Homo sapiens: one gene and its partners. The protein of the gene in region 1 purifies or fractionates together with the protein of each later gene. This does not show direct contact. Each region holds a gene or a part of one and is shown in the gene's direction. Other genes may lie near its edges. The genes, in order: IDS, MESD, GUSB and SUMF1.

Evidence for each region.
Region 2: the proteins of IDS (region 1) and MESD purify together in Homo sapiens (affinity purification with mass spectrometry; 3 studies listed by BioGRID and IntAct, with this or other methods). This does not show direct contact.
Region 3: the proteins of IDS (region 1) and GUSB purify together in Homo sapiens (affinity purification with mass spectrometry; 3 studies listed by BioGRID and IntAct, with this or other methods). This does not show direct contact.
Region 4: the proteins of IDS (region 1) and SUMF1 purify together in Homo sapiens (affinity purification with mass spectrometry; 4 studies listed by BioGRID and IntAct, with this or other methods). This does not show direct contact.

What each region holds. Positions count from the first base shown.
Region 1 is NC_000023.11:149,488,285-149,495,311, reverse strand, and holds part of IDS (iduronate 2-sulfatase isoform a preproprotein), read left to right. Parts: intron 1-3,644; exon of another isoform or gene 3,645-3,774; intron 3,775-4,871; coding exon 4,872-4,998; intron 4,999-7,027. UniProt on the Homo sapiens protein: Lysosomal enzyme involved in the degradation pathway of dermatan sulfate and heparan sulfate.
Region 2 is NC_000015.10:80,979,807-80,986,833, reverse strand, and holds part of MESD (LRP chaperone MESD precursor), read left to right. Parts: intron 1-4,651; coding exon 4,652-4,884; intron 4,885-7,027. UniProt on the Homo sapiens protein: Chaperone specifically assisting the folding of beta-propeller/EGF modules within the family of low-density lipoprotein receptors (LDLRs).
Region 3 is NC_000007.14:65,965,199-65,972,225, reverse strand, and holds part of GUSB (beta-glucuronidase isoform 1 precursor), read left to right. Parts: intron 1-1,859; coding exon 1,860-1,944; intron 1,945-4,318; coding exon 4,319-4,495; intron 4,496-7,027. UniProt on the Homo sapiens protein: Plays an important role in the degradation of dermatan and keratan sulfates.
Region 4 is NC_000003.12:4,464,249-4,471,097, reverse strand, and holds the start of SUMF1 (formylglycine-generating enzyme isoform 1 precursor), read left to right. Parts: upstream 1-3,828; 5' UTR 3,829-3,852; coding exon 3,853-4,122; exon of another isoform or gene 4,123-4,274; intron 4,275-6,849.

The sequences.
Region 1 (7,027 bases):
GAGGTGTACATTCCTCAAATGTATTTGATTCCTGTTTCACTGAGAGTTTGGAAAGCAATGCATCCATCTGTTTGTTTTCTAATTTTGTGTTTCTGGGCTCCTGATGGTGAAGTGGCTTGAACTGGCTCTGAGGCTGCACCTGGATGCTTTATTAGTGATGGTCACTTAAAATGACCCTTCAAAATGGACTGTGTGCCAGGAAGGGCGCTGATTCATGTGTGGTATCGCCTTTAGTCCTCATGGGGACTTAGTGAGGTACCTGCTCTCTGTTGTCTAGGTGAGGAAACTCAAGGCATGGGAGGTGTGCTGACTTGTCTGACAGCACAAAATTAGTGCTGGGTGGAGCCAATTCATCCCCAGGGACTGTAACTCCAAAGCCCCATGGTTGGATCTGTTGGTTCCCAGCAGTGTGGGTTCGAATTCATGTTCTACCTCATACCAGCTGCCTAACCTCTGTCAAGTCATGTTACCTCCCTGAGCCTCCCTGAGTTTTCTTCTCTATAAAACTGAAACAAGGTAGGTAAAGTTTTTCCATGATAACACCTACTTTAGAGATTTTCAGCAAGAACCAAAGAGAGCATGTAGAAGTATCTAGGACCGTGTCGGCTGCACGGAGCTATCTCCTTCAAGTTCTCTTAGTCCCCTCCTTACACACAGTGGACAGCATGACTCAGAGGGCCTCCCTGATGCCTGCATGTGCTGGTCTCAGCCCTGTGTTCCCCTTGAACTCTGGCCTGCTCACTGTCCTCTTGTAGCTTTGGATGTCCGCATCCAAGCCCATCTCACTGCACCCTTGAGACTCAGCTCTGGGATCTCTTCAGCTCCAGCCCTCTAACTCAGCTCTACATGAGCCAGTGACCTCAGGGGCCACACTCAGGAGTTTGTTGCCTGCTCCTTCCGAGTCACCATACTGACCACAACCTCTTCTCCTAGCACTTCCCTTGCTCTACCTCACGGGGATTGCTAGAGTATGGATTTCTATCTCCCCCTTGTGTCCAGGTCCTGTTGGCTTTGTTGCTTCCCTAAATAGCTAAGGCCTGGTGGCAGGTGACTTACTGTACTTCCCAGCCGCCCAGCTCACCATACTTGTCCATTTATCCTTGCCCCTCCTGCAGTACCTTTATCGTCAGACACTCCAGCCACACCCTCTGCTCTGTAGTCCAAGTCCTGAAAGCTGCTGGAGAAAATCCATGCCCCCACGAAGCAGGGAGGCCCTCAGATGCCCCGCCTCCAGCCCCAGCAGCCCAGGCAAGCTCTCTGCTCAGCTCACCTCACTTGTCCTCTGCAGCTGCTCCGTTTGCATGACCTCTTCTCTACTCCCTTTCACTGCTCCCCTCCAGGCCTTTGCCACCCCTGTGCCCCATTTCTCAGTGGATAGCACCTTTCCTCTTGTAGAAATGGAAGCTGGTGGACAGCCAGAGGTAGGGGATCGGACAGGGTGGATGTGGGTACGCATCCTGGCTGTGCCCCTTATCAGCTGTGTGACTCTGGGCAAGTTAACCTTTCTGAGTCTTGGAGTCCTTAATGTGCCGTTCACAGGATCAGATGCCACCTAGTGTGTACTTGCTGAATGGGCTCTATTAATAATCTCTGTCACTGAGACCTGGAATTTTGTGTATGCATGTTCTGGGCTCGAGGCCTCTTCCCTCAACTCCCCACCACTGTCCCTGCTTCCCACGTCTGCAAGCAGAATGAGCAAGATCTTCCTTCTCACCTACCTACCCTGCAGCCTCTCCATCCACTCTCATCCCTCCCAGCTGCAAAAGTGCCAGCCCCCTTGCCCCTGCCTGTTTCTGCTTTCCACTCCTTCACCTGACCTCCAAGGCAGAGCGAGTGCACACTGGGCTGTTCTGGCTGTGTCTGTGGCCTCATTGTCCATTTGTTCTTCACCATCCTCTACACAGGCTTCCACCTCCCCAATCCACTAAACTCTCACCTCAGCACTGACCTTGGTGGCCAGTAAAATCTATCTGTGTAGGTCCTGACCTTCCTTGAGCTCTGTGTCACTTCCTCACTGTTGGCCAGCTCCACCCCTTCTGGGACTGTTGGCCTCCCAATCCTTTCTGTGTCTGCCACTTAGGTGCCACTTCCCAGGCCCCCCACTATATCCTTTCCACCTCTTCTTCCCCTGCTGGGCTCAGTTGAGCCTTGGCAGATGACTCCAGAACTACCCCTTCAGCCCAGGTCTCTCCTGATTTTCAGATATGTGTGTTGACCTGCCTGTGAGAGCCATTCCTAGGCAGATGACCCTGGAGACCTCAGCTCCATAGGCTTCCGCGTGGTCAGGCCACCACCCCTGCCCTGCCTTTTCTCCTTCCTCCTCCTCCTCTTGCGCCCCCTGCCCCCAAATGCCAGCGAATTATGCCACCAGCTGAATGTGAAACCTGGAGTCACCCTTGGGTTCCTCAACACCTCCTCCTCCTCTGCTCCCTGCCCCCATGTCTGCTTGATGCCCCTGAATTCCTCTCACATCCACACAGTCCTCTGGATCCTTCAGCACATTGTTCTGGACCACCTCAGTGGGCCTTGCTTTGTTTTGTTCATTCAGCAAGTGTAGTGAGCACCTCTTATGTACCCAGCAGTGGCCTAGTACCATTTTGTCTAAAGCCTCTGGAATCTGTGTCTGTGTCCTGTTGCAACAGGACTCTTAATAACTTGAAGCCCAGATCATGTCAATTTCTCGCCTTGAAAGACCTCAGTGACTCCATTGGCCTAGAACTTGGAGTCTCCACTCCCTGGATAGACCCACCAGGTCCATATTATCTGGCCCGGACCTAACTTTCTAGTCACCCCTCTGCCCTCCCATTTGATTCTCCAGTCACATGGGCCTTTCATTGGCCCCAAATGCAACCTGCTCTGTCACAACTCCACACTGTTCCGTGCCCTGCAGCCCCTGCTTGGAGCATCTGAGCCCCATTTGTCTGACTGCAGGTGCTTCTTGTCAAATTCTAACTCCTCTGTGAAGCCTTCCCTGAATCTCCCAGGCAGATTTGAGGGCTTATTCCCCTGTGTCACCCCTGGGCCTCTGTGGGGGATCGGTCAGAGTGGTGGGAAAAACTATAGGGAAAGGATGCAAACCTTCTGAAAGGTCAGAAGGTTCTGCAGAGCCCCAGGGGAGAATAGCTGTTCTATAACCCTGAGGCAGAGGGCAAGGAGTAGGTACAAGGGAGTGTGGGAGAATTTATCTTAAACAGGCTTGTTTACTTATGTTGACCAGGAACTGACCTTTGATCGTCTGTGCTTGTGAGGTTCCCTGAAAGGGGAACAATAAATGTTAATTACCTGCAGGTTGGCTCTAGGTTTTTGGCATTATGCCTGCACTGAATAAAAGCCAGCAGCTCCAGCTTCTCGGGGCTGCTCTCTGGCCACTAGAGCCAGGCAGTAACCTAGCTGCTCTTATGCTGCATACCTGTGTCTGAGTACTCATTTCATCCATAGGCCAGGGTCTGCAGGACAGACCCAGCAGGCCTCACTGATAATTAAGCATTTTCTTGTCTCCATGATTGTGTCCTCACTGGATGGGGTGGCTCATCAAGGGTGAGGACCTTGTCTGCTTATTGCCTTACGTCCAGGGGCTAGCATAGGAAGGAGGGAATACCTTTGTATAGGACATAGCCATCCTGACAGGTGTCTTTCATCCCCAGGAGGACCAAAGTTCCACAGGTTTCAGACTGAAGACTTCATCTACCAGAAAGTATAAGTAGGCCAGGGCTCAGCATAATCCTGCTGGAAGGCTAGATGTATATCTTTTCTCTTGACTGCAAGTGAGAACGGGTGAGTCTCATGATTGTCCTCACCCTGGCAGTGATGAGAAGAAGCTGGTGGGTCCAGCTGATAAGTCAGGGGCTGGTCTGCGAAGACACGGCTCTCTTCTCACCCCTCTTTGGGGTGGAAGATTAATTTTTGTCCTTAGCATTTGTGAACCAGGTTGGGAATGAGAGTCAGCCCAGGAGGGGCCGGTGGCTCATTTACTTCAGGGCATGATCTGGCTGTTCCCAAAGTGCCTCTTGGGTTCAGGGACTGTGAAGGACGTGCTGCTCTCTGGTATCTCCTTTGCTCTTCTCCTGCCTGCTGACAGTTTGTTAGAAATGAGCTCCACGTAACGGCCATAGTTCATGAAGATATGCAGTTGTAATCTGCTGTTGGGTTAGCAAGTGATCAGAGGGAAAGGCTCAGTCAGGGTTGCTGTTATGTGTTAAATTATGAATTTTTTTTTCCCTGAAAAGGGCTGTTGACATCCTAACCCCCCAGTACTGCTGAATGTAACCATATTTGGAAATAGGTTTATTGCAGATGTAATTAGTTAAGATCAGGTCATATTGGAGTAAGGTGGGCTCCTAATCCAATATGATCGGTGTCCTTTAAGAAGAGGGGAGAGAGACACGGGAAGAACACATGAAGATGGAGACACAGTGATACAGCTGCAAGCTGAGGAATGCCAGGGACTGACAGCCACCACCACCAGCTAGGGAGAGGCAAGATTCTTCTACTTAGAGCCTTCAGGGAGAGAATGGCCCTCCCAGCACCTTGATCTTGGACTTCTAGCCTCCAGAGCTAGGAGACAATACATTTCAGCTTAAAACAACAGAGCAGTAGGTGACACATTCATCCACTGTGATCTGTGCCCTAAAGTGAAATCTGATTTGCTTAGAAATGTATCTTATTTGTAGACCTACAGATTTTGCTGTGACTCTGTGGGTGAAGTGATGCTGATGGTAGGGAAAGGAGTGTTACATTTTGGCTGAGAAAATCATTAAGGGCATCAACTAAGGGGTAGGGATTGGGAGAGATGCACAGGCAAGCATTATCTCTGTATGCCTTGGCAATTTAAATTGCAGTCACTCTCATTTTTATTTTTTTTCAATTTGCAGCGGAAAATCCGCCAGAGCTACTTTGCCTCTGTGTCATATTTGGATACACAGGTCGGCCGCCTCTTGAGTGCTTTGGACGATCTTCAGCTGGCCAACAGCACCATCATTGCATTTACCTCGGATCATGGTAAGCATTTTGAAATTCCCTGGTGAGTCAAAACATCTGAACTTTCCTGTGAAACATGCTTTGCAAAATTGCCATTGACATAAACATGGGTGTGTTCTCTTTTGTGAACCAGTGGTTCACAAACAAAGTGGGATCCTGGGGCATTTTTATGATCAGCTTGTTAGTCCTGAGACCTCTGTCTTAGATGCTTGACGGATAGGTGTGGGTGGGTGGGGGAGGGTCTTGCAGCAACTTTTTTTTTTTTCTTGATGAATGCAGCAGGAACCCTCCATTTGTGTGGCAGAGCTCTTGTAACCCCCATTTTTAACCTGGAGGGTTGGAGGACTTTTAGTTTGGGTGGAGAGGATCCAGAACAATCCTGGCAGAGCCCAGCAAGCTCTTCACGCCTGGCTCCAGCCCTCCCACCCCTATCCCCGCTGTCTTCTCTGCCGAGAGCCTGGGCTTTTCAAGTCTTTATCTCCCCCTAAGGCTGTTTCCTACTTTTCCAAAAATGAAACTATCTTTTTAAAAGCATTTTTTAAATTCTTCAACATTCCAAGAGCAGGGAATAAAACAGCAGCTCCCCCCGTTTCCCACTCACATAGTCTTGTTCCTCTCATCCTCACCCACTCCCCCATCTCTGAATTGTTTCGAAGCAAATCCCAGATGGTTCCATTTTCCGATCACTGTCTCTGAAAAATATTGCCTCTTTTGAAGTATAACCATAATACTGTTATACTTAGAGAAAGGAAAATAATTTTCATATCATCAAATATGAAATAGGATAATAGTAAATCATAACATGTGCTTATCATGAAAAGAAAAAAGGATACAGAGCATGTAATTCAGGGCCAGAACATCCTGCCCTTTTCTCCCACCTGCTCAGGGCTAACAGATGACAATGGATTAGGGATCCATCTGCCAGCCATCAGTTGTGCACATATGCACACAGGGATATATGTTATACATGTGTATGTTTGTAACATGTATGTCACAAGATGTGATTGCTTGTTCTGTGTGTACTGTTAACGTTCCCTGGTTTTGTACACTTAATGTCATAGGCAATCTCTGTGTCATTTCTCAGAAGCCTACCTTTTCCCTTAGAAATGTCTGTAATATTTTATTATATATGGAGGTGCCATAATTTTTCACATATTCCTGATTATCTGCCATCTGCTTCTGAGCCCTCGGTGCCCAGTTTCCTCTTCTCCACGAACACACTCTGTTGTGAGGCAGTTGCCGTAGATTACAAATAGCCCATCTCAGAGTCCCCTCCTGGGACATCCTCCATCAGAACCGCCTGGGAGCCAGTAAAACATGCTGGTTTCTGCAACTGGTCTCAGGAGCTCGCAGTTCTGGGCATGGGAAAGTGCACTTTAACAGGTGTCTCAGGTGGTCTGGCCACCTCTCCCTGAGCTCATCATTCCCTGGGCCTCCCTATGTTGCCACGTCCTCATCTTGGGCCTCTGGGGCAGGAGCCAGAAACCTCCTGAGCTGCCTGTCAAGGTCATCGGGCTTGTTCCTCCTGATCTGGAGATGGATCCTTGGGGCCCACACAGGCACGCGTTCTCCTTAGCCAGACTTCCCCGTATTTGCTCCTGGCTGCAGCAGCACAGGCTGAGGCCCGGCACCAGATGTTCAATACGATCTTGCAGTCAGGCGGTCCACAGCTATTTCTGTAGCATTTGCCATGTGTCAGACCCTGTGCCAGGCCTGGGGGCCCCCTCTGCCTGGTGCAGGGCAGCTCACAAAAGCTGGCAGAGGCCGAAGGCTGCGTGCCAGTATTCAGAATGCCACAGAGCGCCTGGCTGCTGTACCTTCAGAGCCTCCACAGGCACCCCAGTCAGAGTTCCGGGAGTGGATTCCTGAGGTCGCACTGCCAGGTTCCCTCACGTTGCCATCCTGCAGGCTTCTCGATCCTTGACCTTTTAGATTCCCGCCACACTGAATCTAAAAGGGACAATGTGACCTCTAAGCTGGTGGCCTAGGAGCCTGCCGATAACCTACCCATTCATCAGCCCTCGTGGGTCAAGGCTGCCTCGTCCTCCCC
Region 2 (7,027 bases), on another chromosome or scaffold:
AGAGGATTTGCAGAAAGGGGAGCTCAGCTTTGTAGCTACTGACTTAGACAAACAGTAATGAAGGAGCTCTAAAGCCAGTTGAAAATGCAAGACTGGCCTGGAGGCAGGGCTAGGACTGGAGTCAGGGGACTGCCTGACTTGTCCCTGGCCCCCCGCTCTGCCTCAGGGTAAAGACTGGATTGTTTTCAGCATAAACACACTGATCATAACAGGTTAGGTTACCCAGACTAAGGGTAGAACTGGATAATTATGTACATCTAGGGTACTATTTTTACACTTCAATTTTAACATATAATAATTATACATATTTATGGGGTACAGAGTTGTATTTCTACACATGTATAAAATGTAATGGTCAATTCAGGGTAATTAGCATATCTGTCTCCTAAACATTAATCATTTCTTTGTGTTGGGAACATTTAAAATTCTCTCCTAGCTGTTTGAAAATATGCAATAAATTATTGTTAACTATAGTCATCCTACAATGCTATAGAGCACTAGAATTTATTCTTCCTATCTAATGTAATTTTGTATCCATTCACCATCCTCTCTCCCTATCTCCCCTCCACTTCCCAGCCTCTAGTAACCACAATTCTAATCTCCACTTATGTGAACACAACTATTTTAGGTCCGCATACGAAGGAGAATGCGCGGTATTTGTCTTTCTGTGTCTGGCTTATTGCACTTAACATAATGTCCTCCAGGCTCATTAGGGTACTATTTTGCAATTTTCTTTTCTGTAACTGAAACACACACACACATATACAATGGAAATTAAAGCTGCTTTTTTTTTTAAGTCTCTTGAAACAATTTTTACCTGTATTATATGCACTAGACTTACGACTATTTAATTATATTTGCATTAACAAAGAAGTGCTGGACTGGGCTTAGTGGCTCATGCCTGTAACCCCAGCACTTTGGAAGACTGAGGCGGGTGAATCCTTCGAGCTCAGGAGTTCGAGACCAGCCTGGGCAACATGGTGAAACCCGTCTTTACCAGAAATACAAAAATAAATTACCCAGGTGTGGTGGCATGCACTTGTGGTCCCAGCTACTCTGGAGGCTGGGATAGGAAGATCACTTGAGCCTGGCAGGCAGAAGTTGCAATGAGCCAAGATTGCACCAGCACCATTGCATTCCAAACTGGGTAATAGAGTAAGACCCCATCTAAAAAAAAAAAAAAAAAAAAAAAAAGCTGCTTGGGACCTACTGAGTTAATTTCATGATTATTAGTGAAATCAATCTGAAAAATACAAATATTCTAGGGTATTGAACCAACTGGAAGTCTTGAAGTGTTTTAAAGAGACTATAACCGATGTTATGGAGAATTAAGATAAAGACAGAAACAACTTGTGAATTTGGCAACTAGGAGGTCCTTTGTGACTTGAGAGTATAATTTCCATGCAGTGATTGTGGTTGGAGGCCAGATCACAGAGGCCTAAAGAGTCAGCAGTGTCATAGCCAACAGATACAGTACTGAGTTCTGCTTGCCTTTAAGTCATTACATCCCCAAACAAACCTTAGGAGGGAGAAGCTGTTATTACCCTCAGCTTTCCATTATAGGTAAGGAAAGTTATTTTCAGATGGGCTAAGTAACTTGCCCAAGGCCACATAGTGATGGAGCGCATCCGTCTGACAGCACAGCCCATGCTCCTGTCTGCAAGTCACCATCAGTGGCTCTTTGAAAGCAAAGTGAGGAAGAAACATGTCAGTTGAGAGGGTGGCAGAGTGGAAAAGAAGGTTAGTGTGTTATGTGTGGTCATGTTACTGGGGCCTTGGAGATCACTTCGTTCTGCTTTTCATTTTGTAAATGAGGAAACAGGCCTCGAGGCGTAAGGATTCTTAGGCAGGGTCACACAGCTAGTTATGCAAAACTGAAACCAGATTCCAGGTCTGACGTCGGTATGGATCACCTTCAAGCACTGCGTAGAATTCTTTCGTTTTTACTTTTTACTAAAATTATTTTTAATATAGTACATTATTAATGGTATCTTAAGCCTTGGCCCTTCAGATATTGTTCAGTAAGAGTGACTTAGGGGCTTTTTTTTGTTTTTTGTTTTGGTAACAGGTTTATTGAGATTCAATTCACATGCCATAGGCAATTTACCCATGTAAAGTGTACATTTTAGTTTTAGTATCTTCAGAGAATTGTACAGTCATCACCAAACTCAATTTTAGAACATTTTTATCATCCCCAAAAGAAACCTTCAACCACTCCTCCCCTGTGTTCTCCCAACTCCCTAGCCAGCCCCGGGCAATCGCTTATCTACCTTCTGTCTCAACAGATTTATCCATTCTGGACATTTCCTATAAATGGAATCATAGAATGTGTAGTCTTTCATATCTGGCTTCTTTCACTTAGCATAATATTTTCATGTATCAATCAGTACTTCATTTCTTTTTTCTTTTTTCTTTTTCTTTTTGGTAGAGATAGGGTCATGATATGTTGCTCAGGCTGGTCTTTAACTCCTGTGCTCAGGTGATCTCCAGCTTCGACCTCCTAAAGTGCTGAGGTTATAGTTGTGAGCCACCATACCCAGCCAGTACTTCATTTTTTTTGGTTGCTGGCATTAGCCTTTTCTCCAAGGAACCTGGTTCTATTAAAGATTTTTTATTTGTCAGTCTATATGCTATTTATTAGGCATGGTGGCTAATGCCTGTAATCCCAGCACTTTGGGAGGCCGAGGTGGGCAGATCACGAGGTCAGGAGATCGAGACCATCCTGGGCAACATGGCAAAACCCCGTCTCTACTAAAAATACAAAAATTAGCTGGATGTGGTGGTGCGTGCCTATAATCCCAGCTACTCGGGAGGCTGAGGCAGGAGAATCGCCTGAACCCAGGAGGCAGAGGTTGCAGTGAGCCGAGATCGTGCCACTGCACTCCAGCCTGGTGACAGAGTGAGACTCCATCTCAAAAAAAAAAAAAAAAAAAAAAAAAGTTACTGTTTTCTATTAGTAATTTATTCATTTGTTTTGATCATTATGGGTTCAACATCTCATTTTGTTTGAGGGGTTGTAAGTCATACTATTATTTATTTTGATGTTGAGATTATTTCAACTTTGGCCCATGAGAGCTGCTTCAAGTTGGCTTCCATGGCATTTTGACATGTTCACGATTCTTTGAGCACTTTACTACTTTGTGATGCGGGATTATTCTAGGCTCATCTTCTGTCTCTCTTGCTATAAGCCTGTTCTCCAAGGAACCCACGCTCTTTTAAATATTTTTATCCATTAATCTGTTTACTCATCTGTTAATCTATGAAAAACCATGAGTTTCTCCTGATACCTTCAATTCCAGCCTAATACCACAGGGCTCATTCTTCCCCCTTTCATGTTTGTAACTTACTTCCCAGAAGTTAAGAACCTGGCTCTCATTACCCTCAATATGTTTACTCCTTTTCTCAATCCTAGAGGTCACATAAGATAGTCTCAGAATTGCTAGCCCATACCACTACAGAAAACAAACCTGCTAACTGGAATTGAATATTTTTGTACAATGCCTATTAAGTGAAATGGGTATACATGGAGTGCAGATTTTAAGTATACAGTGCAAAGAGGGAGTATTTCTTTTCTTTTTTTTTTTTTCTTTTAAGACAGGGTCTCGTTCTGTCTCCCAGGCTGGAATGCAGTGGCATAATTATAGCTTACTGCAGCCCTGATCTCCTGGGCTCAAGTGATCCTCGTGTCTCAGCCTCCTGAGTAGCTAGGACTACAGGCACCTGCCGCCACACCTGACTAATTTTTAAATTTTTTTTAAGAGATGGGATCTCACTATGTTGCCCAGGCTGATCTCAAATTCCTGGGCTCAAGCAATTCTCCCACCTCAGCCTACTGAGTAGCTGGGACTACAGGTGTGCCTCACTGTAGCTGGGACTACAGGTGTGCATTGCCATACCTGGCTACTTTTAAATTTTTTTTTAGAGACAGTCTTACTGTGTTGCCTAGGCTGATGTCGAACTCCTGGCCTCAAGTGATCGTTTTACCTCAGCCTCCCAAAGTGCTGGGATTACAAGGTAAGCCACAGTGCCTGGCCTGCAATAAATTTTGATAAATGGATATATCTGTGTAATCTACACCCCTGTCAAAATGTAGAACATTTTCATCACCCCAGAAAAGTTCTCTTGTGTCCATTCTCAGTTAATCCTCCCTTGTCCCCCCTTCTACAGGCAACACTGTTCTAATTTCTGTTACCCTAGATTAGTTTTGCTCATTCTTGAATTTTAAATAAACGGAATTGCATAGTAAATCTTATTTTGTATCTGGCTTCTGTCACTTAACATTTTTGGGATTTGTTAGATGTATCAGTATTTGTTCTCTGTTGCTGTGAAGTATTTCATTGTGTGACCATACCAGAATGTGGCCATTTTTACAGCCTACCATGTTGGGTAGATTGTATGAGAGTTTAAAAGCTCTAGAAACCCATCACATGGGGGCGCTCTGTGATTGGTAACCTGGGTGTGGGTAGTATGTGCTGCCTGAAACTTAGACTATCTTGAAAGTTAAGAAGAGGAAGAAAACCCCTGGTTTTCCTTTTTATGTTGTAATTTAAGTCATATACATGCACCTGACATCATGCAGAAGTTTTTGCCTGTGCCAGTTGAAAAGCAAGATTCTGATGATAGGTTTGATGCTTTTCCCCTAATCTGATAGAAAGATGATGACATTGAAGAAGGAGATCTTCCAGAGCACAAGAGACCTTCAGCACCTGTCGACTTCTCAAAGATAGACCCAAGCAAGCCTGAAAGCATATTGAAAATGACGAAAAAAGGGAAGACTCTCATGATGTTTGTCACTGTATCAGGAAGCCCTACTGAGAAGGAGACAGAGGAAATTACGAGCCTCTGGCAGGGCAGCCTTTTCAATGCCAACTATGACGTCCAGAGGTAAAGCAGCAACAACCAGCTGAGAGACTCATAGGCTGTGCTCGGTCTTTTCTTTATTATTATTATTAATTATGATGATGATGATGATTTTTTTGAGACAGAGTTTTGCTCTTGTTGCCTAGGCTGGAGTGCAGCGGCGTGATCTCGGCTCACTGCAACCTCCGCCTCCCTGGTTCAAGCGATTCTCCTGCCTCAGCCTCCCGAGTAGCTGGAACTACAGGCGCCCGCCACCATGCCTGGCTAATTTTGTATTTTTAGTAGAGACAGGGTTTCACCATGTTGGCCAGGCTGGTCTTGAATTTCTGACTTCAGGTGATGCACCCGCCTCAGCCTCCCTAAGTGCTGGGATTACAGGCGTGAGCCACCACACCTGGCCCTGTGCTGGGGCTTTTCCTGAGGCTCTTAACAGGGTGTCCTTTCTGGCCGTATTTCCCAAGGGCCTCTGCCTTTCCTTTCTAGGTTTTCTTTTAAAATTATTTATCTATCTAGTTTGTTTTTTTTTTTTTTTTTTTTGAGACGGAGTCTCACTGTGTTGCCCAGGCTGGAGTGCAGTGGCGCAGTCTCAGCTCACTGCAAGCTCCGCCTTCCCGGTTCACGCCATTCTCCTGCCTCAGCCTCCCGAGTAGCTGGGACTACAGGCACCTGCCACCACGCCCAGCTAATTTTTTGTATTTTTAATAGAGACGGGGTTTCACCGTGTTAGCCAGGATGGTCTCAATCTCCTGACCTCGTGATCTGCCTGCCTCAGCCTCCCAAAGTGCTAGGATTACAGGTGTGAGCCACTGCACTCAGCCTATCTAGATTTTTTTAATGTAAAGAAGAGCGTTGCCGGGTGCAGTGACTCACTTCTGTAATCCCAGCACTTTGGGAGGCTGAGGTGGGCGGATCACGAAGTCAGGAGATCAAGATCATCCTGGCCAACGTGGGGAAACCCTGTCTCTACTAAAAATACAGAAAAATTAGCGGGGCATGGTGATGCACGCCTGTAATCCCAGCTACTCCAGAGGCTGAGGCAGGAGAATCGCTTGAACCTGGGAGGCAGAGGTTGCAGTGAGCCGAGATTGCGTCACTGCACTCCAGCCTGGCGGCAGAGCAAGACTCCATCTCGGGGAAGAAAAAAAAAAAAAAAGGGCATTTATTGTTGGTAAAAGCAGTTAAGTTTTTGTTTTTATTTTTTGAAGAGGCGAGGTCTCACTATGTTGCCCAGGCTGATCTTGAACTGCTGGCCTCAAGTGATCCTTGCACCTCAACCTCCCAAAGTGCTAGGATTACTGTCACTGGCAACCATGCCTAGTGTGTGTTTTTTTTTAATATCTCAGTTGATCCTAAAGTTTTATTTATCTTTGGATCTTTAGCTTTTATTTCATCTGAACAGAAGGGTGTATAGCTTAGTTTAGACTCTTTGAGGGACAAAGTTAATAGTTTGACAGCTTCAGCTAGAAGTTTCTGCTCAGTGGAAAGTGCTTTGTGTGTAGCTATGTTCACACATAGAGCTTGGACCATGCTGTTAACCGATAACTAATTTAGTATGAAGAGGCTCAGTTTTCACACTTGAGTATGGTCCTGAGGTACAATTTTAAGAAATCTGCTTCTTTTTCCTCAAAAACAGTTCTGAAATTTGGGGTCTGCAAATATTCTGGTTTAGGAAATATAAAAGCAATGACAAGAAATGGGAGGAGTACTTAGAGAGTGTCCGGCCAGCAAAATATTTTCAATTAGCTTAAATAGACACCTAGACAGAACAAATAAATGTCTTGGTGATGTCTGCTCCAGAAGGCCCACTGGTCTCTGTGGAGTGGTGGGAGCATTAGAAACTGAAGGGGGAACGCGTGGTGTAGTCCCTAAGGAACAGAAGAATCTTGCCCGCTGGCCACACTAGGGCTCCACCCAGGCCTCATTCTTTCCGCTTTGTTCCTTGGGACCTTTCGAGTGTGGACGAGCTGGGCAGCTTGCTGCTAAGCTCAAGGGCTAGGATTTTTGTCCAACAACCAAGTGTCCTCTTGAGTCCTTCATAGCCTCTTATCATGACCCACTCTAAGCCATTGGTTTTCCACCTTTATCAGCAGAAGTCTTTTGTCCCATAAAAGTGTAACTGGACACTCTAGAATATAAAACAGATACAGATCAGATCGAAGCTGCCTCT
Region 3 (7,027 bases), on another chromosome or scaffold:
CATGTCATTGCACTCCAGCCTGGGCTACAGAGTGAGATTCTGTCTCTCAAAAAAACAAAAACAAAAACAGTCTGTACTGTGGAGGCCTCGGGCAGGTGCCAGGAGCTCTGAGCACAGACGGGTCCCTCTGTTGGGTTTTTCTTCCCTTCTAAGGGCCATTTCTTCTTATTTATTTATTTATTTTTTGAGATGGAGTTTTGCACTTGTTGCCCAGGCTGGAGTGCAATGGCACAATCTCGGCTCACCACAACCTCTGCCTCCTGGGTTCAAGTGATTCTCCCGCCTCAGCCTCCCGAGTAGCTGGGATTACAGGCATGCGCCACCACGCCCAGCTAATTTGTATTTTTAGTAGATATGGGGTTTCTCCGTGTTGGTCAGGCTGGTCTCGAACTCCCAACCTCAGGTTATCTGCCTGCCTCAGCCTCCCAAATAGCTGGGGCCACAGGTGTGTGCGGCCATGTCAGGCTAAGTTTAAATTTTTTTTTTTTTTTCCGCAAGATGGAGTCTTGCTTGTTGCCCAGGCTGGAGAGCACTGGTGCAATTTTGGCTCACTACAACCTCTACCTCCTGGGTTCAGGCAATTCTTCTGCCTCAGCCTCATGAGTAGCTGGGATTCCAGGCGCATGCCACCATGCCCAGCTAGGTTTTTTTTGTATTTTTTTGTAGAGATAGACTTTTACCATGTTGACCAGGCTGGTCTCAAACTCTTGACCTCATGATCCACCCGCCTCGGCCTCCCAAAGTGTTGGGATTACAGGCGTGAGCCACCATGCCCGCCCCTAATTTTTAAATTTGTTGTAGAAACAAGGTCTTGCTATGTTGCCCAGGCTGGTCTTGAACTCCTGGTCTCTGGTAAAACTCCCAAAGTGCTGGGATTCTAGGCGTGAGCCGCCTTGCCCGGCACTTGCACCATTTCTCTGCATGCGTCTCCACTCCCACTGCCCAGGACCTGTGGACTTAGATTTGAGTCACTGCTGAGCACCTCGCACCTAGCCCCATGCCTGCCTCCCAGCCTGCACTCCGTTTGCTTGATGCATTAATAAATATCCCTCCCAAATCTGCATCCATCCACCTCCTGTGTTCAAGAGCTGTTTCAGGGCGTCAACCTCATTTTTGCCAGTGTCCAGCCTAGTGACCTCAGCTCTGTGTACCTGGAAGAGTGGCTGCTCCTCTGGGGGTATAGGATTCGGAGATGGGGGTAGAAGGAGTGATGTTAGAGAGCTCGGTCTAGGACTAGAGGATCATATGCCCTTATGTAAAATACATCTCAAGTTAGGGAAGAAAGCAGCGGCTCCATGCTTTTTTTTTTTTCCCCTTTGTTTTTGTTTGTTTGTTTTGAGACAGGGTCTTGCTCTGTGGACCAGGCTGGAGTGCAGTGGCATGATCTTGGCCCACTGCAGACTCCTCCTTCTGGGTTCACGCCATTCTTCTGCCTCAGCCTCCTGAGTAGCTCAGACTATAGGCGCCGGCCACCACGCCCGGCTAATTTTTTGTATTTTTAGTAGAGACGGGGTTTCACCGTGTTAGGATGGTATCGATCTCCTGACCTTGTGATCTGCCCGCCTCGGCCTCCCAAAGTGCTGGGATTACAGGCGTGAGCCACTGCGCCTGGCCGCTAATTTTTGTATTTGTAGTAGATAGAGTTGGGGTTTCACCATGTTGGCCAGGCTGATCTTGAACTCCTGACCTCAAGTGATCCACCCACCTCGGCCTCCCAAAGTGCTGGGATTACAGGTGTGAACCATCGTGCCTGGCCCCGTGTTGTGTTCTGGCGGTGGAAGATGGGACAGAGAGGATGGGAGGGTGTCTGAGCCATTCCTGGACTGATGGAACCTGTTTCTTCTGCCTTTTGTGGACAGGATGGTGATCGCTCACACCAAATCCTTGGACCCCTCCCGGCCTGTGACCTTTGTGAGCAACTCTAACTATGCAGCAGACAAGGGGGTGAGCCTGGGGGTCCCCACCCCACTTCTCCCTGCCTTTGCCTGGGCTTGTCCTGAAGCCTGGTCATGGGAACAGCCAGGAAGAACCATGCGCTGCCAGTCTGGGTTTTATTTCATTTTCTTTTTTACTTAAAAAGATAGAGACAGGGTCTTGCCATGTTGCCCAGGCTGGTCTCCAACTCCTGGGCTCAAGCAATCCTCCTGCCTTGGCCTCCCAAAGGGCTGGGGTTACAGGTGTGGGCCACCACACCCCGGCCGCAGCCAGTCTGTTTTCACAGATGGTCTTTGGGTTAATGAGAATTCTCCCCCTGCTTACTCGCCAGGCAGTGTGGCTTTCTCAATCCAAGGAGGCTGGGCATAGGGAGATGGGATTTGTTTGCTCAGTTTGGACTCAGCATTTTTTGCACTTCGATTTAATAGACTCATAAAACATCAAAGATTTAAGGGAGCTTAGAGTTCATCTGGCCCACACCTGGCTGATGAGAATCTCTAGGGGAAGTTTTTATGAAATGCCAGATCTCTGCATTCTGAGGTCCTGATTTAGTACGTCCAGGGTTGGAACTTGAGTTTTTCTTTTTCTTTTGTAGAGGCAAGGTCTTACTCTCTTGCCCTGGCTGGAGTGCAGTGGTGCAATCACAGCTCACTGCAGCCTTGAATTCCTGAGCCCAAGTGATCCTCCTGCCTCAGCCTCCCGAGTAGCTGGGACTCCAGGTTTTCACCACTGCGCCTAGCTAATTTTATATCTTTTTGTAGAGGTGGCATCTCTCTATGTTGCCCAGGCTGGTCTCAAAGTCTTGAGCTCAAGTGATCTCCTGCCTTGGCCTCCCAAAGTGCTGTGATTACAGGCATGAGTTGCAGTGCCTGGCTGACATTAGCATTCTTTATTTATTTATTTATTTATTTTGAGATGGAATCTTGCTCTGTTGCCCAGGCTTGAGTGAAATGGTGCAATCTCAGCTCGCTGCAACCTCGTCCTCCCAGGTTCAAGCAATTCTGCCTCGGCCTCCTGAGTAGCTGGGATTACAGGTGCATGCCACCACACCCAGCTAATTTTTGTATTTTTTAGTAGAGATGGGGTTTTGCCATGTTAGCCAGGCTGGTCTCAAACTGCTGATCTCAGGTGATCTGCCCACTTTGGCCTCCCAACGTGCTGGGATTACAGGCGTGAGCCACCACACCCGGCCAGCATTTTTACTAGAAAGAAATGTGTTCAGGACGCATTAGAAACTAGCCAGTTGGACACAGAAGCCCCTGCTGCTCAGCTGTAAGCACCGCTATGCTGAAGCTTGGGGTGGTCCTACTCGGTCGTCACCGCCCTGCTCCTTGGAGTGACTTTTCTGGCCCTCTGCAGTCCACAGTGCTGCCTTGTGAAAGCTCCCTCAAGATCCTCTGTGACAGCCGGGCATGGTGGCTTACACCTATCATCCCAGCACTTTGGGAGGCCGAGGCAGGCAGATTACTTGAGATCAGGAGTTCAAGACCAGCCCAGCCAACTGGTGAAACTTCATTTCTACCAAAAATACAAAAAATTAGCTGGGCGTGGTGGCGCACGCCTGTAATCCTAGCTACTCGGGAGACTGAGGCATGAGAAGCACCTGATGGTGGGAGGCAGAGGTTGCAGTGAGCTGAGATCGCACCACTAACATTCTAGCCTGGGCGACAGAGCGAGACTCTGTCTCCAAAACAAAACAAAAGATTTTCTGTGAGAATGACTGCATCGGCCCCTCGGGTGGCAGCGCTTCTCCAGGGCAAGGTGAGGGGAAGCCCAGTGATGGGAGTGCTGCCTGGAGAGGAGTCAGTTCCAGTGGTGGGGGCCCTGGGCTTTGGCTGAGGGCTGTGCGTTGGCAGCTGCTGTGCCTCTCACAGCCCTTCCCAGCGGCGCACGTCATGAGTGTCAGTGTGGAGTCCCAGGCCTACCTCCTCTGGGCCACTTTGTGACCATGTTTCTTGCCTATGGCAGGGTAATTTCAGGATCTAAATTGGTACACTTGGACGTTCTCAGCCCCAGGAGGCAGCTGTTCCCGTTCTAGGTTTTTTTTTTTTTTTTTTTTTGGTAGAAATGGGGGCTTGTGATGTTGCCCAGGCTGGTCTCGAACTCCTGGGATCAAGTGATCCTCCCATCTTGGCCTCCCAATGTGCTGGGATTACAGGCATGAGCCACCGTGCCCTGCTAATTTTCTTACTACTATTTTTTGTAATGCTGCAGTCTTGCTGTGTTGCCCAGGCTGGTCTTAAGCCATCCTCCTGCCTCAGCCTCCCAGAGTGCTGGGATTACATCCCCCTTACCTTCTCTGCCAGAGGAGCCCCCGCAGTGTGTGAATGCTGAGTCATGCTGTCTACTGAGTGCTGAACGGGCTCTGCTGCTCTGGTCCTAGGCTCCGTATGTGGATGTGATCTGTTTGAACAGCTACTACTCTTGGTATCACGACTACGGGCACCTGGAGTTGATTCAGCTGCAGCTGGCCACCCAGTTTGAGAACTGGTATAAGAAGTATCAGAAGCCCATTATTCAGAGCGAGTATGGAGCAGAAACGATTGCAGGGTTTCACCAGGTAAGCAGTGTTGAGCTTTCTGCTTGTGTGTTCTCTCAGGGCAGAGATGTCACTCACCTCCTCCAGCCTGACCTGCGCCCACTGCACTGCTCCCCTCGCTTCAGCTTTGGGCTCTCCTCCCACGGCCCCGTCCACGTTCCCTCACCGCCAACAGCCAGGCCTGTGCCCCACTCACTTGGTCCTCAGAGGTGGCCTCCTTACTGGCTTTGTTTCCAGATAGCCTCCTATCACCCGTGCCCAAGTGGTCTTTCTAACAGATCCAAATTTGTATTTGTTTTTGAGACCGGATCTCTCTGTCACCCAGGCTGGAGTGTGGTGGTGCGATCACTGCTCACTGCAGCCTTAACCTCCTGGGCTCAAGTGATCCTCCCACCTCAGCCTCCTGAGTAGCTGGGACCATAGGCACATGCCAACACGCCTGGCTAATTTTTTTACTTTTGTAGAGATGGGGTCTTGCCATGTTGCCCAGACTGGTCTTGAACTCCTGGCCTCAAGTGATCTGCCTCAGGCTCCCAAAGTGCTGGGATTACAGGTGTGAGCCTCTGCACCAGCCACAGTTGAAAATTTTGGGAGTCCTGTCATTGGCTCCCCCAGGCCCACAGGACAAAGCCCTAACCTCTGGTCAGGACACTCAGTGTCCTCTGCTCTCTCCTGGGTTTTCATCCCCTTCTCCCCTCTATCCCAGCCACTGATCTGTTTCCACTGCCCTCGCTTGCTCTCCTGCTCTTGCTTGAGCTGTTTCTTCTGCCTGGAATGCCCATGTTGGCACCATAATCACCAACTAAAATATCCTTTTTCTTAATTTTCATATTTTAGATATAGGGTCTTGCTATGTTGTCCAGGCTGGTCTCAAACTCCTGGACTCAATTGATCTTCCTGCCTTGGCCTCCAAAAGTGCTGGAATTACAGGCATGATCCACTGTGCTAGCCTTTTTTTCTTTTTCTTTTTTTCAGGGTCTTGTTGTGTTGCCCAGGCTGGAGTGCAGTGGTGTCATCATAGCTCACTGCAGCCTTGAACTAAAGGGCTGAAGTAATTCTTCCACCTCAGCCTCCTGAGTAGCTGGGACGACAGGCATGAACCACCATGTGCAGCCTATTTTTAAATTTTTTTGTAAAGATGGAGTCTATCAGGCTGGTCTAGAACTCCTGGCCTTACGTGATTGTCCTGCCTCAGACTCCCAAAGTGCTGGGAATCCAGGCATGAGACACCATGCCCAGCCTGTCGTCATTTTTTTAATCTATCTCATTTTTTTGTCCTCCTCACCAAAGATATGTTGGTTTGTCTTGTGAGGTTTTTTTTTTCCTGTGGATTCCTGAACCCCATCCAGCCCCTCATTCCCACCCCAGCCAGCTCACACTTGTTTGTCACAGCTCCTGGTTGACACACAGGGAACAGCCACCCACAGTGGACTGCGCTGTTCTGTTTGCACCCTTAAATTTATCGTGCTTACAGAATGCCACTTCTGCAAACTAGTCAAGTAGGGGAAGTGGCTCTTGGATATATTTGCTTGCGCATCCTCTTTGAAAAGGTAACCAGCTCTGAATTCTTTTTTTTTTTTTGACACAGAGTTTCGCTCTCGTTGCCTAGGCTGGAGTGCAGTGGCGCGATCTCGGCTCACTGCAATGTCCACCTCCCTGGTTCAAGCGATTCTCATGCCTCAGCCTCCCGAGTAGCTGGGATTACAGGCATGCGCCACCACGCCCACCTCATTTTGTATTTTTAGTAGAGATGAGGTTTCACCATGTTGGTCAGGCTGGTCTTGAACTCCTGACCTCAAGTGATCCGCCCGCCTTGGCCTCCCAAAGTGCTGGGATTACAGGCATGAGCCACCGTGCCAAGCCCTAGCTCTGAATTCTTAAGAAACTCTTGAGAGGGTCTAGGTCAGTGCTGATAGAACCTCTGCAGTGCTGGGCATGGTGGCTCACACCTGGAATGCTGGCACTTTGGGAGGCCAAGGTCAGAGGATCTCTTGAGCCCAGGAGTTTGAGACCAGTCTGTGCAACATAGACCCCATCTCTACAAAAAATTTAAAATTAGTTGGGCATGGTTATGAGTGCTTGTAGTCCAAGCCACTTGGGAGGCTGAGGTGGGAGGATTGTTTGAGCCCAGTAGGTCAAGGCTGCATTCAGCTATGATTGCACCACTGTACTCCCACCTGGGTGACAGAGTGAGACCTTGTTTCAAAAAATAAAAAAAAACAAACTTGCAATGATGGAAATGTTCTATATTTGCACTGTCTGAAATGGTACACACTAGCTACACATGGCTACTGAGGTCTTGATATATGACTAGGATAACTGAATTGATTTAGTTTAATTAAATAAATTTTTTTGAGACAGCCTCACTCTGTTGCCCAGGCTGGAGTGCAGTGGCATAATCACAGCTCACTGCTCAACCTCCTGGGCTCAAGCGATCCTCCCTCCTTAGCCCCAAGTAGCTTGAACTGCAGGCGTGCGCCACCACACCTGGCTAATATTTTGACTTTTTGTAGAGACTGGGTCTCACTGTGTTGCCTAGACTAGTCTTGAAAT
Region 4 (6,849 bases), on another chromosome or scaffold:
TCCAGCCTGGGTAGCAGGGCAAGATCCTGTTTTTTTTTTTTTTTTAAACCCAAACCCAAAAGGTTAGAATTTCCATATGACCCAGCAATCCCACTTCTAGTATATATGAAGACAAATGAAAACATGTGCAAACAAAAACTTGTACATGGATGTTCATATCAACATTATTCATCAAACCCAAAAAGTGGAGCCAAGTGTCCTGCACGTGTGAAGTAGATAACATTTTGACTTGTGCCTTTCCTACTCCAAGAGCCTCAGGCAGCATCACTGTCTGAGGGCTTTCAGAATGCCTTATGCATAGGCATATATTCCTACACCACATGACATCTGACCGGGGACCCACTTCACAGTGAAGGAGGTGCAGGGGTAGGCCATGATCACAGAATCCAGTGGTTTTATCCCTTACAATACGAACCCAAAGCAGCTGGCCTCATAAAGGGTGAAAATGGCTTACTGAAAGCACAGCTGAAACGCCAGCTTGGATGCAATTTCCTGCAAAGATGGGGCCATCTATAAGGATGCAGTATACGCCCTCAATTAGAGATGTCAGACTTGTTCCCACGTAGGAAGAATATATAGGTTCCACCAAGAGGTGGAAGTAGAAGTAGCCCCACTTACTATTACTCCTACTGACTTACTGGGATTTTGTTCTCCCATCCCTGCAACTCTGAGCTCTGCAGAGCTGCAGGTCCTGATCCACAAAGGGATGCTGTCTTTCTGTGGACACAACCAGGGTCCCATTGAACTACAAGCCATGGCTACCATCAGGGCACTTTGCATTCCCTGTGTTCAGGAACCAGAAAGCAAGAGAAGCCTCTAACCTGGAGGGAAAATTGATGCTGCTCAGCAGGAAGAGTGTCAGATGTCTTCTCAAAACTGCAGTGGCACCAACTTTCACAGTAAAAGCTTACCAGAACATCCATGACTTGGCCCAATGTTACCTTTCTGTTCTCCTTTCATCCATGACTTGGCCCAATGTTACCTTTCTCATCTCCTTTCCTTTCTTCTCTCCCCCTTGCTCACTCCACTGTAGCCATGCTGAACTCTTTGATGTTCAGTGAGCAGACAAGCTGCTTTCAGGACTGGGGTCTTTCATCCTCCCAGCTTCATGAGATAGAAGGAGCAAGAAAGGCTACAAAATGCAGAAGGAGCTCACACGTGAGACGGAGGGTGAGAGATATTTTATATAATTACACTAATTCGTACGAGCTGATGGCTGAGTTGGACTTTTTACCTCTTAATTTTTAGAACAAGCCTCCTCACTGACAGGAGCAAAATATTAGAGTGGAAAATATTGATGAGAAATCTCTCATCGATCTCATACTCATTGATTATTGACTAAAAAGTTAGCCTGAGACAAAAGAATGATCGTCCTGGAGAACCAACAAAGTTCCATCTTTCATAATGATTAGTAATAGCAAAGTTATTTTTGAGATATGTTAAATGTCAGGTACCAGGCTACACCTTTTATATACTTTGTGTTATTTAATCCCCATAAAATCTATAAGAAAAAGGAATTATTATTCCCATTTCACACACGAAGAAATAGAGGCTCAGAAAGCTGAAATAATTTGCCTAGGTCATACTTCATGTAAAGTGGCCAGCTTTAACCACAGCTCTTTGTGAGTCTAAGACCTATATTATTTTCTCCACAATTTGATTCCCCTTAAGAGAAAGAGATAATCGTTACTTCATTTGTTCATTCACTTATCCATAATTTAATAAATGTTCACTGAGTGATCATGTGCAGGCTTGGCCTGATTTTGCTGATACAGTGGCAAACGAATAGGCTCCTGCCTTACCTTCATGGAGGTTATAGCCTAATGGTATAGCTGGACCAGGAATCAAAGAAGTTCAGGTCTCTGAAGCGCAGCTGACACAGCATGTGCTGAGACTGATATTTGAAGGAGGCGAACAAAGATTACCGTTGACCTAGACCTTGACTATATATTATGCACAGTAAATACATACAACCTTGGTTAAGGCATTGACCTTTTAGCTTCATCAATTTTGAAATGAGTATAGTAATAATACATTTCTTGCCAAGTGGTTGTAATCTCAAATGAGAAAATGTGTGAAAGGCCTTGGCAAACTGTAAAATAGTCAACAAGGAGAAAAGGCCTTTTTTTTTTTTTTGAGAGATGGTCTCACTTTGTCACCCAGGCTGGAGTGCAGTGGCACAATCATGGCTCACTGCAGCCTCTGCCTACCAGGCTCAAGTGATCCTCCTGCCTCAGCCTCCGAAGTAGCCAGGACCACCGGTGTGCGTCACCATGGCCAGTTAATTTTCTTAATTTTTTGTAGAGACAAGGTCTTGCTGTGTTGCCCAGGCTGGTCTCAAGCTCCTGGCCTCTAGCGATTCTCCTGCCTCGGCCTCCTAAAGTGCTGGGATTACAGGCTTGAGACACGGTGCCTGGCTGGTCTTTTCTTTATGCTAAAAAAATTCAAACAGATGCTACATTAGAATAGTGCAATAAACACCCAGATGCCCATCAACCAGCTATGACAGTTATCAACTCATGGCCAATCATGCTTCATCTTTAGCCAGACCCTGATTACCCATTTTTTGGGAAGCAAATCTTTGACTGCCTATATTTTTATCCATATATATATATGTGTGTGTGTGTGTGTGTGTGTGTGTATACCTCAGTGAGTGTGTGTGTACCTCAGTGAGGGGATTCTTTTAAAAAATATAGCCACAAATACCATTATTACTCCTAAAAGCCTAAAAACAAAATTTACAGCAATTCCTTAATTTTATCAAATATTATAATTTGACTTAGTGGTTAAATTTCCCTGATTATCTCAAAAATTTTGAACTCAGTAGGTTTGAATTAGTATTTAGATAAGGTTCACATATTGCAGCTGGCTGCTATGTTTTTTTTTTTTTTTTTTTTTTCAGATGGAGTCTTGCTCTGTCCCCAGGCTGGAGTGCGGTGGCGCCATCTCGGCTCACTGCAAGCTCCACCTCCCGGATTCATGCCATTCTCCTGCCTCAGCCTCCCGAGTAGCTGGGACTACAGGCGCGTGCCACCACGCCGGGCTAATTTTTTGTATTTTTTAGTAGAGATGGGGTTTCACCGTGTTAGCCAGGATGGTCTCGATCTCCTGACCTCGTGATCCACCCGCCTCGGCCTCCCAAAGTGCTGGGATTACAGGCTTGAGCCACCGCGCCCGGCCTGCTATGTTGTTTTTTAATCTGTAAGTTTCTCCTTCATCTTCTTTTTGTTTTGGTTTTGCATTTTGTTCGATTACGGAACTGTAGAACAGTGGTTCTTAAACTTAAGTGTGGATTAGAATCATCTGGAGAGCTTGTGAAACCCTGGATTGCTGTGTCCAGTCCCCACGGATTCTGATTCCGTATTGTATTTCTCTTTTTTTTTTGAGACGGAGTCTTGCTCTGTCGCCGAGGCTGGAGTGCAGTGGCGGGATCTGGGCTCACTGAAACCTCCGCCTCCCAGGTTCAAACGATTCTCCTGCCTTGGCCTCCCGACTAGCTGGGACTACAAGCGCGCCATTACTGGGTCTTTGTGAGGATTAAATGAGATTTTAAAAAGTGAAGTGCTTAGCATAGTACTCTGGCACTTACCAAATGCCCAGCAAATTTGACTGTTATTTTTCAACCAAGAAATCATAAAGGGGTGCACGGTCTGTGGAAGGCCTTGAGTTTTGTGGAGTTTTGTGTTTTGCTGCGTTTTGACGTTAGCACAGGCAAGCAGCAGCGCCAAAGAAGTACCTGAAGAAAGGTGAAGAGCAACTCTCCTGGTCACTTCGTAAGTCAGCTCAAAATTCTGCCCCTTTAAGGAGGGCTCAGCCACGTGACCAACCGGGTCACATGGCCCGCGGGACAACATGGCTGCGCCCGCACTAGGGCTGGTGTGTGGACGTTGCCCTGAGCTGGGTCTCGTCCTCTTGCTGCTGCTGCTCTCGCTGCTGTGTGGAGCGGCAGGGAGCCAGGAGGCCGGGACCGGTGCGGGCGCGGGGTCCCTTGCGGGTTCTTGCGGCTGCGGCACGCCCCAGCGGCCTGGCGCCCATGGCAGTTCGGCAGCCGCTCACCGATACTCGCGGGAGGCTAACGCTCCGGGCCCCGTACCCGGAGAGCGGCAACTCGCGCACTCAAAGGTGCTCCATCGATTCCTCCGAGGCGGGTGGGGGCTGCTCGGTTCCTGGACGGGGTTGGAGTAGGCAAAGCAAGGCACTAGTAGGAAGGGAAGTAAAGGTTATAACCACACCCCAAATCGAGCACCTGCTGTTCCCGTATGAGGAGTTCCTTCTCCGTGCCTCACCGGAAGACTCCATTTAATTGACCATTAGGGAGTTTGGTTTGAGGGTTATTGTTACTTCTTTACCCCCTATTTCTTTCTCCCTCCAACCTGTTCTCTTAATGAGGATCTCATAATTTTAAGGCAATCAAATTATGGTTTAAATCACCATTTCCTCTCTTATTAACGGAATAAATTAGGATCCTGGGTCTCAGTATCTTCACCAGGGTTGTTGTATACTTATCTGTAGTCTCCTCGAGTACACTCTGCTTGAGGACAAGGGCTTGAATTGTTTATCCTGCTATTCTTAGCACTTTAGCACTTAGGAAGGGCTAAGCAAACTGTAGTTGTTTTATTGCTATTATTTATCTGTCTTGCTTAGCGCCTGTATGTGTTAGGTGCCGGGATATATAAATAACTTACTGGCCGGGCGCGGTGGCTCACATGCCTGTAATCCCAGCACTTTGGGAGGCCGAAGCGCGCGGATCACGAGGTCAGGAGTTCGAGACCAGCCTGGCCAACATGGCGAAACCCCGTCTCTACTAAAAATACAAAAATTAGCCGGGCGTGGTGGCGGGCGCCTGTAATCCCAGCTACTCGGGAGGCTGAGGCAGGAGAATTGCTGGAACCCGGGAGGCGGAGGTTGCAGTGAGCCGAGATCTTGCCACTGCACTCCAGCCTGGGCGACAGGGCGAGACTCCGTCTCGAAAAAAAAAAAGAAAGAAAGAAATAACTGTTACTTCAATCTGTCTGCCCGGTATTTTGCATATTGATGTGTTGTCGAAACAACTTATGGGTCTAAAGGTCAGGTCTTCTGACTCCTAAACTAGTGCTCCTTCTTGTTTACTTAGCAGACACTATCCTTTTCCCATTCCATTTTTCTTTCCTTTGGGTTAATCCTGACCAATATTTAGGACTTAGGTGAGAGGTAACATCCACAGTAGGTTTTACCTGATCTCCTCTTTCTCTCCCCTTCAATATTTCCGTATCCTGCCTCAGTAGTTATGTGTTTATTCTGACATAACAATTATTAAAGATGTTTTTCTGCTGATGTCTCTCCCCAACTGGACTGTGAGGGTGATGGGGTCAGGACCATGATTTAGTCTCTCAGGTGTAGAGTGTAGGAGGTTGATACCTGGGCTTCTCATTGTTTTTCCATCCTGTATAATTTTTGGCCTTTACTTTTTTTCCTGTTACCCTTAGAGCATGTCCTGCAGTACTGTTTATCTTTTGTGTGTTGAAGACTCCTGATTACTGTTTTAGTGTGTATTGGCCATACTTGATATTAATTCCTCTCTAACTTGCCTGGTAATTGATAATCAATCTCTCTTTCTTTTTTCTTTTCTTTTTTTTTTTTTTAGACGGAGTCTCGCTCTGTCACCAGGCTGGAGTGCAGTGGCGCGATCTCCGCTCACTGCAATCTCCACCTCCTGGGTTCGAATGATTCTCCTTCCTGCCTCAGCCTCCCAAGTAGCTGGGATTACAGGCACACGCCACCATACCCAGCTAATTTTTGTATTTTTAATAGAGATGGGGTTTCACCATGTTGGCCCGGATGGTCTCAATCTCCTGACCTTGTGATCCGCTTGCCTTGGCCTCCCAGCGTGCTGGGATTACAAACGTGAGCCACCGCGCCAAGCCAGTCTGTCCCTCTTTCTAAGGAGAAATCCTTACATCTGTTTATCTATTTTTTAATAGGGCAGCCATCTCATTTGCATATATACATTGGTCTGTCTCAAAATTTTATCTAGATTCCTCTGGCAAGCATTGAACATTTTTCATTTTTAAACATTCTATTTTCCTCTGGGTTCCAGAATGGGATGTGGATGTTAGAATCTTTTGGATTACATTTACAAGATGTACATTTTTCATCCCTATAGAGTGGTTTTGTGTCTTGACTGGATGCTATATGGGCCATCTTTGGCCAGTTCTTATAGTCTGCTTTCTACAATGCTTAGGGGCATCTCAATTTATTAACAAATTAGTGGTTGATGAGAATATACCTTCAAGCCTTCAAGGGCTGAACTTAATGACTGAAACTGAAGCAGTCTTGTTATCAAGACAATGACGTCATAGGAGGCTGTTCTTAATCTCTCTATTTTCCTTGGTTTCAAATGTTTTAGTTCATGTGCAGATGACTTTGGTCTAATTCTGACACTTTACCATTTATTCTAAATTCAGGAACTCCAATATTTCAGGAGAAGTAAATGAGCATAGTGGTGTTTCTGCCTTTTTTCCCCTCTTTGTTTTCTGTTTATTTGGTTTAATTAAACAAATGTTTATTTGGCACATTACTATATAACACTTGTTATGTAAGATTCATCCTATGTGCTGGGCATACAGAAAAAGACCCATACACTACCCACATGGCATTTACACTCTGGTAGGTGTTTCTCTCTCTCTCACACACACACACACACACAAACACACACAGACACACACATAAGTATCATTTTTCTATAGTGAGAATACTATAGGAGGGATATGTCCAGAGTACCTGGAGAGGAAGAAAGAATTAATTCTTCATGGACAAGTCGAGTAGTGCCTCAAAAAAAAAAAGGCCACATTTGAGCTAGGCCTTGGAGGA